2 separate regions of the Homo sapiens genome follow, and region 1 is linked to region 2. Evidence: fine-mapped expression QTL. Tissue or cell type: whole blood. Region 2 holds a variant in brackets; the other region holds the start of a gene. All regions are shown on one strand. Distances are from middle to middle.

Evidence for each region. PIP is the estimated chance that this variant, and not a neighbour inherited with it, causes the effect.
Region 1: it holds the start of WWP2, and the variant in region 2 is fine-mapped to the expression of WWP2 in whole blood (INTERVAL, PIP 0.97).

The regions. Positions count from the first base shown.
Region 1 is chr16:69,757,832-69,765,933 of GRCh38, reverse strand. WWP2 (WW domain containing E3 ubiquitin protein ligase 2) reads right to left here and starts at 3,602. Exons shown (of 24, transcript NM_001270454.2): 1 at 3,543-3,602. It also overlaps the pseudogene NONOP1. RefSeq lists silencers at 3,126-3,175, 3,196-3,355, 3,376-3,515 and an enhancer at 3,219-3,797.
Region 2 is chr16:69,823,989-69,832,090 of GRCh38, reverse strand. The region is part of intron 4 of WWP2 (WW domain containing E3 ubiquitin protein ligase 2); the gene reads right to left. Among named protein-coding and RNA genes, the nearest start is that of WWP2, 66 kb to the right of the region's middle. RefSeq lists enhancers at 7,721-7,790, 7,801-7,900. The variant C/TC (reference allele first, on the strand shown) is at 4,937.

The DNA of each region.
Region 1 (8,102 bases), 66 kb after region 2:
CTCAGCACTTTCGGAGGCTGAGGCAGGAGGATGTCTTGAGGCCAAGTGTTCAAGACCAGCCTGGGCAAAAGTGAGAACCCCCGCCCCCAACTCCCCATCTCTCCAAAAGCAAGACGGAGTCTCACTTCATCACCTAGGCTGGAGTGCAGTGGCGCGATCTTGGTTCACTGCAACCTCCATCTCCCGAGCTCAAGCAATTCTCGTGCCTCAGCCTCCCGAGTAGCTGGAATTAGACACATGTGCCAACAAGCCCAGCTAATTTTTGTATTTTGGGTAGAGATGGGGTTTCACCATGTTGGTCAGGCTGGTCTTGAAATCCTGACCTCAAGTGATCCGCCCGTCTCAGCCTCCAAAAGTTCTGGAATTACAGGCGTGAGCCACCGCACCTGGCCAGGATCCTATTTAAACTGCAACCTACATCCCTCTTCCCTGCTTTATTACAACATAATACATATTATACTTAGTTATCAATGTGCCCTTCTCTAATAAAATTGAAGATCCACAAGGGTGGGGATCCTTACCTTTCTTGTACTGCTATATTCCTGGCATTCAGAACAGGTTTGTCCAATAGAAATAAGATGGGAGCCACAAGTGCAAGCCACATTTATAATTTTTTATTTTTCTAGGAAATACATTTTAAAAAGAAAAAAGTGCTGGGTTTCAAGTCAAGGTTAAGTGGGAAAAAAAAAGACAAAAAGGTGAAACTTTTTTTCTTTTTCTTTTTCTTTTTTTTGAGACAGGGTCTCACTCTGTCACCTAGGCTAGAGTGCAATGAGTGGCACGATCACAACTCACTGCAGCCTCCACCTCCCCAGGCTTGGGTGATCCTCCCACCTCAGCCTCCTGAGTAGCCAGGCGGGCGCCACTGCACCTGGCTAATTTTTGTATTTTTTGTAGAGACAGGGTTTCACCATGTTGCCCAGGCTGGTCCCAAATTCCTGGGCTCAAGCAATCTATCCACCTTGACCTCCCAAAGTGCTGGAATTATAGGCATGAGCCACCATGTCTGACCAACTATTTATAATTACGTTGTATTTAACCCAATAAATCCAAAATGTTATCATACATGTTTATACATTATATGATCGTTTACTATAACATAAAAAGTATCAATGAGACATTTTACTTTTCTTCATGCTAAGTCTTCAAAATCCAGAATGTATTTTATGCTCACAGCATAGCTCCAGTGCTCAGCAGCCCCATGTGGCTAGTGTACACCATACTGGACTCTACAACAATGCCTGGCAAAGACAGAGTGGGTACTTATAAATATTCACTGAATGAAAGAATGTTTTCCCAGGAAGAGGAAGCTATGGTAGAGTACAGCGTTTTCTAAACTTCATTTACTCACATTCTACATTCACAACTTTTTCTGTGTGATCTTTTTCCTTAAAATGTTACACTTTTTATTCCTGAAAAATTATGTAAAAATAAAACTTTCAGTTGGGCATGGTGACTTACACCTGTAATTGCAACACTTTGAGAGGCCGAGGTGGGAGGATCGCTTGAGCCCCGGAGTTTGAAAACAGCCCGGGCAACATAGCAAAACCCCTGTCTCTACAAAAATTAGCCAGGCGAGGTGGCACCCACCTGTAGTCCCAGCTGTTTGGGAGGCAGACATGGGAGGATCACCCGAGCCCAGGCAGGTCAAGGTTACAGTGAGCCGTGATTGTGCCACTGCACTCCAGCCTGGGCAACAGAGTAAGATCCTGTCTCAAAATAAAATAAAAATAAAATTTTCTATTGTGTCAATAAATGAAAAAGAATGGATCTAAGGATTAAGGGTCTGGGCTTGAGTCCCTACTCATTTACTAGCTCTGAAATCTAAAGTAAGGACTTCATTAAGCCTCAGTCTCTTCATGTGATATAGGGACAATACTGACCATCCCAATTTCAAAGGGAAGGTTAAGTGAGATGTTGGTATACGCTCTTTGTAAATGGGAAAGTAATCATGAAGTGAAAGAGACTGAGAAGCCAATCCAAGCCTTTCTCTCGAGCCTGTTTTCATATGGACCAATGACACAGATAATCACAAGCTTCTCTGACAAGAAAAAGAGTAGAAGACTTGGGTTCAAATCCTTTGTCACCACTTACGCCGGTGTGACTTTTAGAAATGCATTTATTCACCAAATATTTATCAAGTGCTCACAACATGCCAGGCACTAGGCTAGCAGCCAAATAAAATATGAAACCTGCCCTTGAAGGATTTGCAATCTAGCAGGAAGAGGCCAGCAAACAAGAAAGAGCAATAAATTGTTTTAAAAAATCAAGTCGTCTCTCGTAAGTCTGTTTGTTCCCTGTGAAATGAGAATACATCTTCCCAACCTCACTCATAGGCGCTGCTGCAAAAACTAATTTTTAAATGTTTGTCAAATAACTCCAAAAACTTGAACTCATAATACATTAGGAAAGTACTTTTTCCTACTTGTAACCCAAAACGATGCTGGCTGCTGTGAATGTCCAGTTTGAACATTCGTTCCAGTTACACTGCACTCATGAAACTCCTTTTGCTTCTGCAAATTTTAGTAAACATGAGAAACAGGAAGATGAACAGGCTTTAACACAAGTATTCAATCTCAAAATCATGATCCAGGTCACAGTTCTAAGGAACATAACACAGACCTCTCAGGCACCCTACCTAGTTACAGTTCGTCAAGATAAGCAGTCACAAGATAAGCTAAGGGAAACTGAATAATTTAAACGGAAGAAAGAGAAAAGTCATAAAGCAGTCTAGGTAGACACTTCTCTGTCCAAGATTTCAGCAGTCACTATGTTGCTGAGGTAACGCTGGGCTAGGTCAACAGTGTAAGCTAAAAGCCATTTTACAGGCAAAGTGCCCACACTTATTTTTTTAATTTATTTTCTTTTTTTGTTTTTTAAAGCCTCGATGATGGCCCGTTCAGGGAAAATCTCAAAGAAAAATGAGCTGAAGGGCTAGGCTCCCAAGAAGTGGAAACCCTACCCACGCAGGACTAAGTGGGCGCGAGGGAAGCAAGACGATCAAGATTCTGTGATCCCTCCTGAAGTTTAAAAACTGAATGGGACCGTCATCAAAGTCTCGGGTAACAATCATTTCCAAACAGGAAGGAAGGGAGAGACTCTCAGAGGGGGTCCAGGCAGCATCTTTTTCCCTCTGGCTCCACGCCATAAACCCATTTTCAGGCACCCCCTTCCAGCTCAGTTCCAAGTCGCCCCTTCCCCTGGTCCCGATCCCTCCACAAAGATCGCTCCTCTCCATGCCTGGGAACCTAAGCTCCTCTCCCCTTCCGGGAGGACTCGCTCCAGCTGCACCCTTGGCGGCCGGGGCACCCATTTCGGAGCAACCCCCGCGCGGGCCGCGGCGCGCCCACCCCACTCGGGCGGGAGCCGGGACACCCCTCCTCGGAGGCCGGAACCGCCGCGCCAGGCCCCTCCCACAGGAAGCCGCCGCCCCCCGACGCCCGGGCCGCGCCGCCCCCGGCCCACCCCGCGCCGCCCGCCGCCCCCGGCCCGCCCCGTGCAGGCAGCCAGCCCACCGCGCCCCCCGCGCCAGCGCTCGCTACCTGCCGTGGCCACAGAAGCGGCGCCGAACTCCTCTCCTACTTCCGCCTTCCACCGCCCGCACTCGGGCCGGGTCACGTGACCGCGCGCGGTCACCTGACCCGGAAGAGGCTGGCCAGGCTCGCAGGTGCGGGCCACCTAGGCCTGGCCTGGGCACCTCTGGCCTCGAGGAGGCCTTTTTATCGTCTCTGTAGTTGAAAGTGGAAGGGTTTCTGCTCACCGGATGGTCCCAGGCAATCAAATAAATTGAGGGCTCACTGAATGCCACCTACTCTGCCCATCAACCTTATAGAGGCAGGGACAGGTACTAGCCCCATTTTACAGGTGAAACGAGACCTTCAGACTGTTAAGTCAGCAAATACTTAATTGAGCTCCTTTAGTAGGGTTGCCAGATAAAGTACAGGACACCCACTTAAATTTGAATTTCAGATAAACAACAGTGTAATATGTATGTCCCAAATACAGAATGGGACATATTTATACTAAAAAAAGTATTTTTTGATTATCTGAAGATCAAATTGAATTGAGTATCTGTATTTCTATTTCCTGGCAACCTTATGCCTATTATGTGCCAGGCACTGTTCTAAGATCCAGGACCACAAACATCTCAGCCTTTGTGGGGCATCTGTCCTTGTGACATGAAGCAAAAGTACAAAAGCTTAAAAACTCCTGCTTGGCTCCATAAAAAGCCCCTCCACACTAATCCAATCGCATTCCCTTAATCTACAACTACAGGGCACAGAGAACTTAATGAATTATAATCCAGGTAGGTAGGTAGGTAGGTAGGTGGATAGATAGATGATATTTTTTTTTTTTTTTTTGAGATGGAGCCTCGCTCTGTCGCCCAGGCTGGAGTGCAGTGGTGCAGTCTCAGCTGACTGCAACCTCCGTCTCGCCGGTTCATGCAATTCTCCTGCCTCAGCCTCCCGAGTAGCTGGGATTACAGGCGTGCACCACCACGCCTGGCTAATTTTTGCATTTTTAGTAGAGACAGGGTTCCTCCATGTTGACCAGTCTGGTCTCGAACACCTGACTTCAAATGATCCGCCCACCTTGGCCTCCCAAAGTGCTGGGATTACAGGCATGAACCACCGCACCTGGCAGAGAAATATTTTTTTTAAGAGATGGGTCTGGATAGGTTGCTTTGGCTGGGCTCGAACTCCCAGCTTCAAGCAGTCCTCTTGCTTCAGCCTCCCAAGTAGCTGAGACTACAGGCGAATGCCACTGTGCCTGCCCAATAACTTTATTTATTTATTTATTTATTTATTTATTTGCTTGCTTGAGACAGAGTTTCACTCTTGTAGCCCAGGCAGGAGTGCAGTGGCTCAATCTTGGCTCACTGCAACCTCTGCCTCCCAGGTTCAAGCAATTCTCCTTCCTCAGCCTCCTGAGTAGCTGGGACTACAGGCACCCACCACCATGCCTGGCTAATTTTTGTATTTTTAATAGAGATGGGGTTTCACCATGTTGGCCAGGCTGGTCTCAAACTCCTAACCTCAGATGATCCACCTGCCTTGGCCTCCCAAAGTGCTCAGATTATAGGCGTGAGCCAATGCGCCCGGCCTCCAAGAACATTTTAAATAGACATTCTTGACTGATGTTCTGGACAAGTTGAATGAAGGCTCAGTTTAATCACCATTGATTAAAATTAATACTAATGACGTAATTAGCCTCAAAGACTTGTACTAATCTGTTATTTTTGGGTCTTCGAATTGGGATGGATTCTATCATGCATACAAATTAAATTGGCTGGTGGGGCGTGGAGGCTCACGCCTGTAATCCCAGCACTTTGGGAGGCAGAGGCAGGTGGATTACCTGAGGTCGGGAGTTCGAAACCCACTTGGCCAACCTGGTGAAACCCCATCTCTACTAAAACTACAAAAAAAAAAAAAAAAAAGATTCGCCGGGCATGGTCCGGGTGCGGGTAATCCCAGGTACTCCAGAACCTGAGGCAGGAGAATTGCTTGAACCCGGGAGGCGGAGGTGGCAGTGAGCCATGATAACGCCTCTGCACTCCAGCCTGGGCGACAGAGTGAGACTCTGTATCTAAATAAATAAATAGGTTGAACACTTAGTCTCTACTTTTTGTAGTACCACTCCAAATCCAAGAGATTAACTTTCAAGGAGATACAGTCCTGTCTTTGTACATTAAACCCTATATTAGTCTCATTTATAAAACTACTATAACTAAAACTTCTCCAGTTCCATTGATGGCAGTTTTACTAATTCTGTTCTAGATAAATTAGAGACTATTTCCTTGACTTACTAGCATTTGTTGGTTTCGGTTTGTTTTCTTCTTTCATATTTCATTTTTTATCTTTTGTTGCTTTTTTTTAACAACCCTGCAGAAAAGATTTAGTGGCATCTGAGTAAGTGTTCACCAAAGGGGAGAAGGGACAAGCAAAGAGCACACACTGCACATTAAAAGAATAAAATCTGACAGGGTGCGGTGGCTGGCACCTGTAATCCCAGTACTTTGGGAGGCCAAGGCGGGCAGATCAGACTGTCAGGGGCTCGAGATCAGACTGGGCAACATGGTGAAAACCCATCTCTACAAAAAATACAAATATTAGCTGGGCATGGTGGCACACACCCGTAGTCCCAGCTAATCAGGAGCCTGAGGCTTGAGAATCGCTTGAACCTGGGAGGCGGAGGTTGCAGTGAGCCAAGATTGCACACTGGACTCCAGCCTGGATGACAGGGTGAGACTCTGTCTCAAAAAAAAAAAATTGATATGATAAACTAGAAAATGAGAAATAGCCTCCAGCCATACTCTGTTACGGCAGGTAGCACAGGCACGTTCTAGATAATGAAGAGACTGAGTGGTGAGAAAGGTTGAGCCAGGTGCAATGGCTCACGCCTGTAATTCTAGCACTTTGGGAGGCCAAGGCAGGTGGATCACCGTACATCAGGAGTTCGAGACCATCTGGCCAATATGGTGAAACCCCATCTGTACTAAAAATACAAAAATTAGCCAGGCGTGGTGGCGGGCACCCATAATCTCAGCTACACAGGAGGCTGAGGCAGGAGAATTGTTGAACCTGGGAGGCAGAGGTGGCAGTGAGCTGAGATCGCACCACTGTGCTCCAGCCTGGGCGACGAGAGCAAAACTCAGTCCCCTTCCCGCCACCCCAAAAAAAGAGAAAGACTGAATTTGGGTAATTGCTGAAAGGCAATATTCAGTAGCACTGAAGGATTTTTGGGGTAGGACAGATAAATGACAATTGAGGAATCCAGCTGGCGTGAAGACTTCATGAAGAAAGTTTGCATGAAGACCCAAGTCGACATTCAGCAAAATTCACCGGATCTTATAATCATAAAATTTCAGATTTGCAAGGAAACGTAGAAGTCACTAAATACACCTTCTGTTCAATTCAGCAAGGAATTATTTGCTACCAAATTATGTGTGTTGCTTAGGGAGGTGGGGTGAGACTATTAAGACAAATTAGACAGACTCTGGCCCCACGTTGCTCAAAATGAAGTGAAGGCACATAAGCAGCAGTCAGTATAACAGAATGGATAATTAGGTGGCTCAGGGACAGCACCGTGTCTCACACCTGTAATCCCAGCACTTTGGGAGGCCAAGGCTAAAGGACTGCTTGAACCTGGGAGTTTCAGACCAGCCTGGGCAACATGATGAGACTCTCATCTCTACAAAAGTAAAAATGAAAAAACTAGCTGGGCATGGTGGTGTGGGCCTGTGGTGCCAGCTACTCGAGAGGCTGAGGTAGGAGGCTCACTTGAGCCTGGGAGTTCAAGGTTGCAGTGAACTATGATCATGCCACTGCACACCAGCCTGGGCAACAGAGAGAGACCGTGTCTCAAAAAAAAAAAAAAGAAAGAAAGAAAGAAAGAGAGAGAGAGAAAAGGAAAGGAAAGAAAAAAGAAGAGAAGAGAGAAAAAAGTGGCTCTGAATCAGTTTGTCTGGGTGTTACGTTATTTTCACCACTTACTGACCATGTCAGCTACACCTAGTGGCTTTAGTTAGCTATCCCTTGTCTGTAAAACAGTACCTATCTTGGCCGGGCGCGGTGGCTCACGCCTGTAATCCCAGCACTTTGGGAGGCCGAGGCGGGTGGACCACGAGGTCAGGAGATCGAGACCATCCTGGCTAATACGGTGAAATCCTGTCTCTACTAAAAATACAAAAAAAGTCGGGCATGGTGGCGGGCGCCTGTAGTCCCAGCTACTTGGGTGGCCGAGGCAGGGGAATGGCGTGAACCCGGGAGGGGGAGCTTGCAGTGAGTTGAGATCGCGCCACTGCACTCCAGACTGGGCGACAGAGCAAGACTCCGTCTCAAAACAAAACAAAACAAAAAAAAGCTTTTCTCGGGACGGGAGAGGCCGTGTAGCGTCGCCGTTACTCCGAGGAGAGACCAGTCGGTAGAGGAGAAGTCCAGGTTAGAGGGAAGTGGGAGGCACTTTGCTGTCTTCAATCGAAGTTGAGGGTGCAAAAATGCAGAGTAATAAAACTTTTAACTTGGAGAAGCAAAACCATACTCCAAGAAAGCATCATCAACATCACCACCAGCAGCAACAGCTGCAGCCGCCACCACCGCCAA
Region 2 (8,102 bases):
TTGGGAGGCCGAGGCAGATGGTTCGCTTGAGCTCAGGAGTTCGAGACCCGCCTGGGCAACATGGTGAAACCCTGCCTCTATTAAAAACACAAAAATTAGCTGGGCGTGGTGGTACCTGCCTATACTCCCAACTACTTGGGGGGCTGAGGCGGAATAATCGCTTGTGCCCAGGAGGTCAAGGCTGCAGTGAGCTGAGATCAGGGTACTGCACTCCAGCCTGGGTGACAGAGTGACACTGTCTCAAAAAAAAAAAAAAAAAAAAAGGTTTTGTTTTTTTCCATGCCAGCATGCCTAAGGTACTAACAGCAACTATAACAATAAAAACTTGCAAGAATTTGACAAAATATAGTTTAAAATATAAAAAGGTAGAAGACACATCAGTCAAGCTGTTTGGGGAATAACTCTCACTCTTATTTTTCCTCCCTTCAAAGCCTCAGATTTGCAAGTGGCTTCAAGTTAATAATTTCCTATTGAGAAGAGTTTGTACGTGCAGCAAGGATGAGTCATATTTTTCTAAGAGTTACTTTTTCCCTTTCTTGACCTGGATTTTTAAAAATATGTTGTTTGCATGTGGTACTAATAAATATAGATAAATAGGGCATGGAAATTGCCGTCCTTATTCCAACAAAAGAAAAAAAACTACATAAACTGTAACTGCCAGACCATGCTACTATAATGCAATTCCGTTACAAAATCCAGAACTCTTGCCTGGAGAGTTTCACAGCAAATGTACGAAAGAACTTTCTAGTTTGGGGTATTTTCTCATTATTGTCCCTCCCCACCCCATACCACCGAAATGTATGTGCATGTCAAAGGAAAAATAGTTCTGTTTTCTTTTGGTTCCTAATTCAGAATACAAATGATAGGATTTACCTGGAAATTTGAGAAACATGAAACAAGAAAGAAAGGAGAATTTTTTAAAGGGAGGCCAAGGACGCCAGGATTAAGAGTCTCTGAAGCCCGATGAAGATGTGACTGATTTGGCCATTAACATAAGACCTGCTTAGTGAAACAAGCCTCCTTCTTCCTGCCTCCCTCTGCCCTCAATCCCATAGGCCCATCAAAAGCGGGTGAGAGTAAGCAGCACTTCATTAACAGGCCCGTGTTCATTCTACACATAACTGCAAACACTGGTACACAGAGGAAGGGAACCGGGGGAAATTCCAGAAGGGCAGAGAGTAAACAGTCTCCTTTCCATTCCCCAGTTCCCTGAAACTCAGACACACACAGGCTGGAGTCCACCCCAGGTCTAGAGAGAAGGCTCTTTCACATTTCCTTTGCAGTAAAGGAAGCCAGATGATTCCAGGATTTACTGTTACGATGGCTCTTCGGCTTCCAACCTTAGCCAGAGCCTAACAACAGAAAGTCTCTTCTACCCAGCTAGGCCAACAGTGAACACTGGTATTCCTGTTGGGGCACCAATGCTGACTCTGCTTACTCCACCTCCCCGCGGCCCCCCAACACTCACACTCTGGCAGGGTCTTACCCAGAACCCAGAATGTAATGAGAACTCTGGCTTGGTCTTGCAGTCTCTTCTTTGGGCTACTACCGCTGGGAATCTACCCTTTATCATTGCTAAATTAAAGTTTTGGTCTCCTGAGGGTTGTATGAACTCTTCTAGAGAAAATAGCCTCATTTTTACAAAGCCAGTTTACAAACTTTTTCTCTGTTTCTTGTTCATTCATTCAGGAAACATTTCCTGGGCTGGGCACAGTGGCTCATCCCTGTAATCCCAACACTTTGGGAGGCCGAGGCAGGAGGATGGCTTGAGACCAGTTTGGGACCAGCCTGGGCAACAAAGTGAGACCCTCATCTCTATAAAACAGAAAAAAACTAGGCCGGGCATGGTGGTTGTCGCCTGTAATCCCAGCTCTTTGGGAGGCCAAGGCAGAGAGATCGCCTGAGCGCTGGAGTTCAAGACCCACCTAGGCAATGTGGTGAAACCCCATCTCTACTAAAAATACAAAAACTAGCCAGGCATGGTGGCATGTGCCTGTAATCCCAGCTACTTGGGTGGCTGAGGCAGGAGAATCACTTGAATCCAGGAGGCGAACGCTGCAATGACCCAACATCGCGCCACTGCATTCCAGCTTAGGTGAAAGAGTTAGACTCTATCTGAAAAAAAAAAAAAAATTAGCTGGGCGCAGTGGCGTGTGCCTATGGTCCCAGCTACTCAGGAGGCTGAGACAAGAGGATTACTTGAACCCAGGAGGTTCAAGTAACATTTGCTGGGTGCCCACTATCTTCCAGACAGTGCTTGAAGCTATGTTATCATGGAAAATGGAAACAGACGTTGTCCCTGCTTTTAGGAACGTTACAATTAATTCAGTGGGAGAAGTGGAAGTAACAAGGAAATGTAAAGTTGCAACTGTAAGAAAAGGTTTCATGCAAGAGATATTAACATATGGTCCCCTGAGCAGCCAGATGCTTGGCCTGGTCAGGACATCAGGAAAAGTTTCTTGAGAAACTGATAACTGTCATCTAAGTTTCAAGAAGACAGCTAGCAGGGTAGGGCAGGGCAGGGAGGAAGACCATCCAGGCAGGGGAAATGTTGTGTGCAAAGGTCCTGTGGCACAATGAGCTGGGTGCATTCAGGAAAGTGGGCAGAGATGAACGGGGCTGGACTGGAATGAGATCCAAATGGGTGGGAGGACTGAGTGGTCACTGGACATTGCAATGCCTTGTGACATGCTGTGTTAGAGAGTTTTTCTGTAACCTAAGAGCCACTGCACAGTGCTAAAGGGTTTTTTAACTGAGGTGTGACAAGATCAGCCTTGCTGGATTAATAATCATTCTGGCTTTGGTGTGGAAAACAAGCCGGAGGAAAGGAAGGACAGAAACAGGCAGAGCAGACAGGAGGCTGCAGATGAAAATTTTGGCAGCCAGGAAAGGACTAGAGCAGAAGTGGAGCTGAAGAAGTGGGCAGACTTGCAAAAGTAAAAATCAAGATAATCTGAAAAGAGATTAGAAAACGGGGTGGGCAAGAGGGGTCGGGTATCGAAGACGGCTCCTGGGATTCTAAAGCACTTAACTGGACAAATAGAGGCTCTATATGATGAAATACAGAATACGGGAACAGGACCAAGTCTGAGGAGGTGACTTGCACATGTTGAGGTGCTTCTGACAGGGAAACACCTGTCAGGGAACACCACAGGGAAACACCAAGAGAGTCGTCAGATACGTGGGAAGAGAGCTCAGAAGTGATTCAAATCTGTGGCTCACCTGCACACGGTGGTTTGCATAGAGAGGAAGGTGAAACAGAGATGAGATCATGGAAGAAGAGGATGGAATAATAGGAAACTCCCATATTTAACAGTTAAATAGATGATGACCTTGCCAAGACGGGTGGATCACCTGAGGTGAGGAGTTCAAGACCAGCCTTGCTAACATGGCAAAACCCTATTTCTACTAAAAATATAAAAATTAGGCCAGGCACGATGGCTCACATCTGTAATCCCAGCACTTTGACAGGCCAAGGCAGGCGGATCACCTGAGGTCAGGAGTTCAAGACCAGCCTGACCAACATGGAGAAACCCGTCTCTACGAAAAATACAAAATTAGCGGGGTGTGGTGGTGCATGCCTGTGATCCCAGCTACTCAGGAGGCTGAGGCAGGAGACTCGCTTGAACTAGGGAGGCAGAGGTTGTGGTGAGCTGAGATCGCGCTGTTGTACTCCAGCCTGGGCAACAAGAGCGAAACTATGTCTCAAAGAAAATTAATAAAAAATTAATAATAGATGATGACCTTGCAAGAAAGACAGAGAAGAACAGCTAGAGAGATGGGAGGAAGATCAAGAAGGGTTCCTGGGAAGGCAGGAAAGGGGAGCCTCTAAGCATGGATGGGGCATCTGCCCTTAGGAGGAGGGAAAGAAAGGAAGGTGGATTGGGCACTCATGTCCTCATTTCAGTACATAACGGACTCACCAACCAGGACCACCCTTATTTCTCTTGATTCAGGGTCCCAGTGCTCTATAGGCAAGGCCCATCCAGCTACACACATTTTCCTTTACTTAAAAAAAAAAGTACATATGCACACACAATTCAGCACCAGTTACCCATTACAGTCACCCACGTAACAAGGTACCCCAGAAGGAGTCTCGGGAACCAGCTGTGGATCCTCTTAAAACAAGATACAAAGATTTCATCCGTCTTGGTAAATCTCTCAAGCCGTAGCATATTTTAATTTTTTAAAAGGTACCTGGGGAAATAAATACAGATCTGGGAAGGTTAAGTCTTTAGAATAAATTATCAGTTCACATCATTACTGCTGCCTTGTCATTAGTGCTCCTCATCTCCGAGGGGAGGGAGAGTCCCTGCCACACCATTAATCCCCTGCCCAGGCCCTGCCTGGCTCCAACAGATCACCCATGCTCTGTGCCCTCAGGGAACCGCAGCGGCCACAACCGCCTCTCTCAGTTGCCTGGTATCAAAGCCATGTTTATAAACACCTTCCAAAGAACAAACCTCCTTTTAAATGTTCTTTGCAGAGCAAAATGTAGGAGTCCTCTTAGAAAATTATTTTTTAAGGTTACAATTCTGCTTTTAAAAAAATTCCCTTGTATACATTGGAGTTTTTTTACAAATTATAATTTCAGATGAGGGACCTATTATGCCCCAATTAAGATTTGGATTAGTGATTATAAAGCGTATACAACAACATGGAAAATTATTCATACCACAAAGTTAAGTTTTTATTTTTTTTGAGATGGAGTCTCTGTCGCCCAGGCTGGAGTGCAGTGGCGCGATCTTGGCTCACTGCAACCTCTGACATTATAGAATGCACCCTATTACTAAAATCATGTAAAAATAAGTATACAAAGGGGCAAAGAAATAAATGAACCAGGGAAAAATGATAAGTTGTGTTTGAGCAGTAAGATTATGAAACAAAGATTTTCTTTGTTCAATTTCCATTAATTCCACAGTAGTTTTTTTTTTTT[C/TC]ATAATTTCCATTTCAGTTAAACATTAGACATGTATGCAGGAGTGTCAACAAGTGAAATGACACAAGGCATGAGATTTTCTTGCAAATACTTCCCCAAAAGATGGGAGCTAAAGATGAAGGACAAGTAGATGTGTGCTGGTTATCATTTAAGCTGGGTAACTGGTGCTAGATGGTCCATTATTCTCTCCGCCCCCCCCCCTTTTTTTTTTTTTTTTGAGGTGGAGTCTCGCTCTGTCACCCAGGCTGGAGTGCAGTGGCACGATCTCGGCTTACTGCAAGCTCCGCCTACCGGGTTCACACCATTCTCCTGCCTCAGCCTCCTGAGGAGCTGGGACTACAGGCACCTGCCACCATGTCCGGCTAATTTTTTTTTGTATTTTTATTAGAGACGGGGTTTCACCGTGTTAGGCTAATTTTTTTTTTTTTTTTTGTATTTTTATTAGAGAGAGGGTTTCACCATGTTAGCCAGGATGGTCTCGATCTCCTGACCTCGTGATCCACCCGCCTCGGCCTCCCAAAGTGCTGGGATTACAGGCCTTAGCCACCGTGCCCGGCTCCACTTTTTTTTTTTTTTTTTTTTTTGAGACGGAGTCTCACTCTGTTGCCCAGCCTGGAGTGCAATGGCACTATTTCGGCTTACTGCAACCTCTGCCTCCTGGGTTCAGCCAATTCTCCTGTCTCAGCCTCCCAAGTAGCTGGGACTACAAGCACCCACCATCACGCCCGGCTAATTTTTTTGTGTGTATTTTTAGTAGAGACAGAGTTTCACTATGTTGGCCAAGCTGGTCTCGTACTCCTGGCCTTGTGATCTGCCTGCCTCGGCCTCCCAAAGTGCTGGGATTACAGGCATAAGCCACTGCGCCTGGTCTACTTTTTTTTTTTTTTTGAGACGGAGTTTCACTCTTGTCACCCAGGCTGGAGTGCAGTGGTGTGATCTCAGTTCACTGCAAGCTCTGCCTCCTCAGTCCAAGCGATTCTCCTGACTCAGCCTCCTGAGTAGCTAGGATTATAGGCACCCACCACCACACCCGGCTAATTTTTGTATTTTTAGTGCAGATGGGGTTTCATGATGTTGGCCAGGCTGGTCTCAAACTCCTGACCTCAGGTGATCTGCCCACCTCAGCCTCCCAAAGTGCTGGGATTACAGGCATGAGCCACCGCGCCTGGCTGCTTCTACTTTTATTTATGTTTGAAATTTTCCATAGTAAAAAGTTTAAAAAGTATTTTCCAGGCAGGGTGTGGTGGCTCACGTCTGTAATCCCAACACTTGGAGAGGCCAAGGTGAGAAAATCCCTTGAGCCCAGTTTGAGACCAGCCTGGGCAACATAGGGAGATCCTGTGTCTACAAAAAATGTAAAAACTTAGACAGGTGTAGTGGCATGCACCTGTGGTCCCATCTACTTGGGAGGCTGAGGTGGGAGGATCACTTGAGCCCAGGAGGTCAAGGCTGCAGTGAGCTGTGATCGCACCACTACACCTCAGCCTGGGCAACAGAACAAAACCCTGTATCCAAAAAAAAAAACCAAAAAAAAAAAACCCACTTCTGCTATATCATATCGTCTTTACAATAAATAATATTAGCTTTCAAAATAAAAAATAATGTGCTCATCAAAAAAATTCAAATACAGAAAGGTAAACTATGACACCTACTCCACAAATGCACACATTCCAAAGCCTTTCCCATGGTATCGCCACTTTAGTTTTTTGGTTTTTGGGGTTTTTTTTTTTTGGAGATGGAATCTCGCTCTGTTGCCCAGGCTGGAGTGCAGTGGCACCATCTCAACTCACTGCAACCTCTGCCTCCTGGGTTCAAGGGATTCTCCTGCCTCAGCCTCCTGAGTAGCTGGGACTACAGGTGCCTGCCACCATGCCCAGCTAATTTTGTATTTTTAGTAGAGACGGGGTTTCACCATGTTGGTCAGGCTGGTCTCGAACTCCTAGCCTCAAGTGATCCGCCCACCTCAGCCTCCCAAAGTGCTGGGATTACAGGTGTGAGCCACTGCACCCAGCCAGTATCGCCCACTTTGAAAAACTTTGTATGAAGTCATTGCAAACACAAGCACAAATATACACATAAAAGCTACAGATGCAAGGCCGAGCACAGTGGCTCATGCCTGTAATCCCAGAGCCTGAGGTGGGTGGATCACCTGAGCTCAGGAGTTCGAGACCAGCCTGGCCAACAAAGTGAAACCCCATCTCTACCAAAAATACAAAAATTAGTCAGGCATGGTTGTGCATGCCTGTAATCCCAGCTCCTTGGGAGGCTGAGGCAGGAGAATCACTTGAACCCGGGAGGTGGAGGCTGCAGTGAGCCAAGATCACACCACTGTACTGCAGTCTGGGTGACAGAGTAAAACTCTGTCTCAAAAAAAAAAAAAAAAAAAAAGCCACAGGTGCAAAGTTGAGGTCATTCTAGGCCCAAAGCTCTGCCCTTTGATTTTTCACTTGTAATCTATGAATCTTTTCAAATATATACAGATGCACTCTATCCACTCAAGAGGGTTTGGGGATTCCTCCCTCCAAGAGAATGAATTCATGCAATACATGTGTTATAAACATTAATTAATTGAGGGAGAGAGGAAAAGGGCAAGAGGAAGGAAAAAAGGAAGGAACAAAGGGAAGGGGGAGGGAGGGGGAGGGGGGAAGGGAGGGAGGGAGGGATATTATTTTCTGAGAAGTGTGTGCCTTACTGTCCTGGATGTAATAAACAGCACTCCCAGGCCAGGCCAGGCACTGAAGTCAGAGTCCCACTCTGTACCTAATAGTGGCACTAACTGCCCACTTATGTGACTGTGACACTCTTACTCTGGTCCAGGATTACCTTCCCTTTTGACGGACCACTCTCCCACAAAGAATAAGCCTCCTACACTAAGAAAAATACTCCAAGAATCCTGGTAGTCTGAAGGAAGAGGGAAAATTAAACACTGCAATGAGATAAATGAGGTCTGATGTTAACATGGCTATTCCGGCAGCCACAGCACCTCCCCTGGGAGAACCTGGGAGGCTGGAATGGACGGTCAGGCGGAAGCCGCCCGAATGACTGGTGCGGAGCAGAGGCCCAAACACCAGATGAAGTGTTTCAGTTTTGTTTTTGGCAAGGGGAAGGAAACAGCTCACATTCAGGCAACAATCTCATTTTCCTGTCACCAGGTCAAGGCCACCATT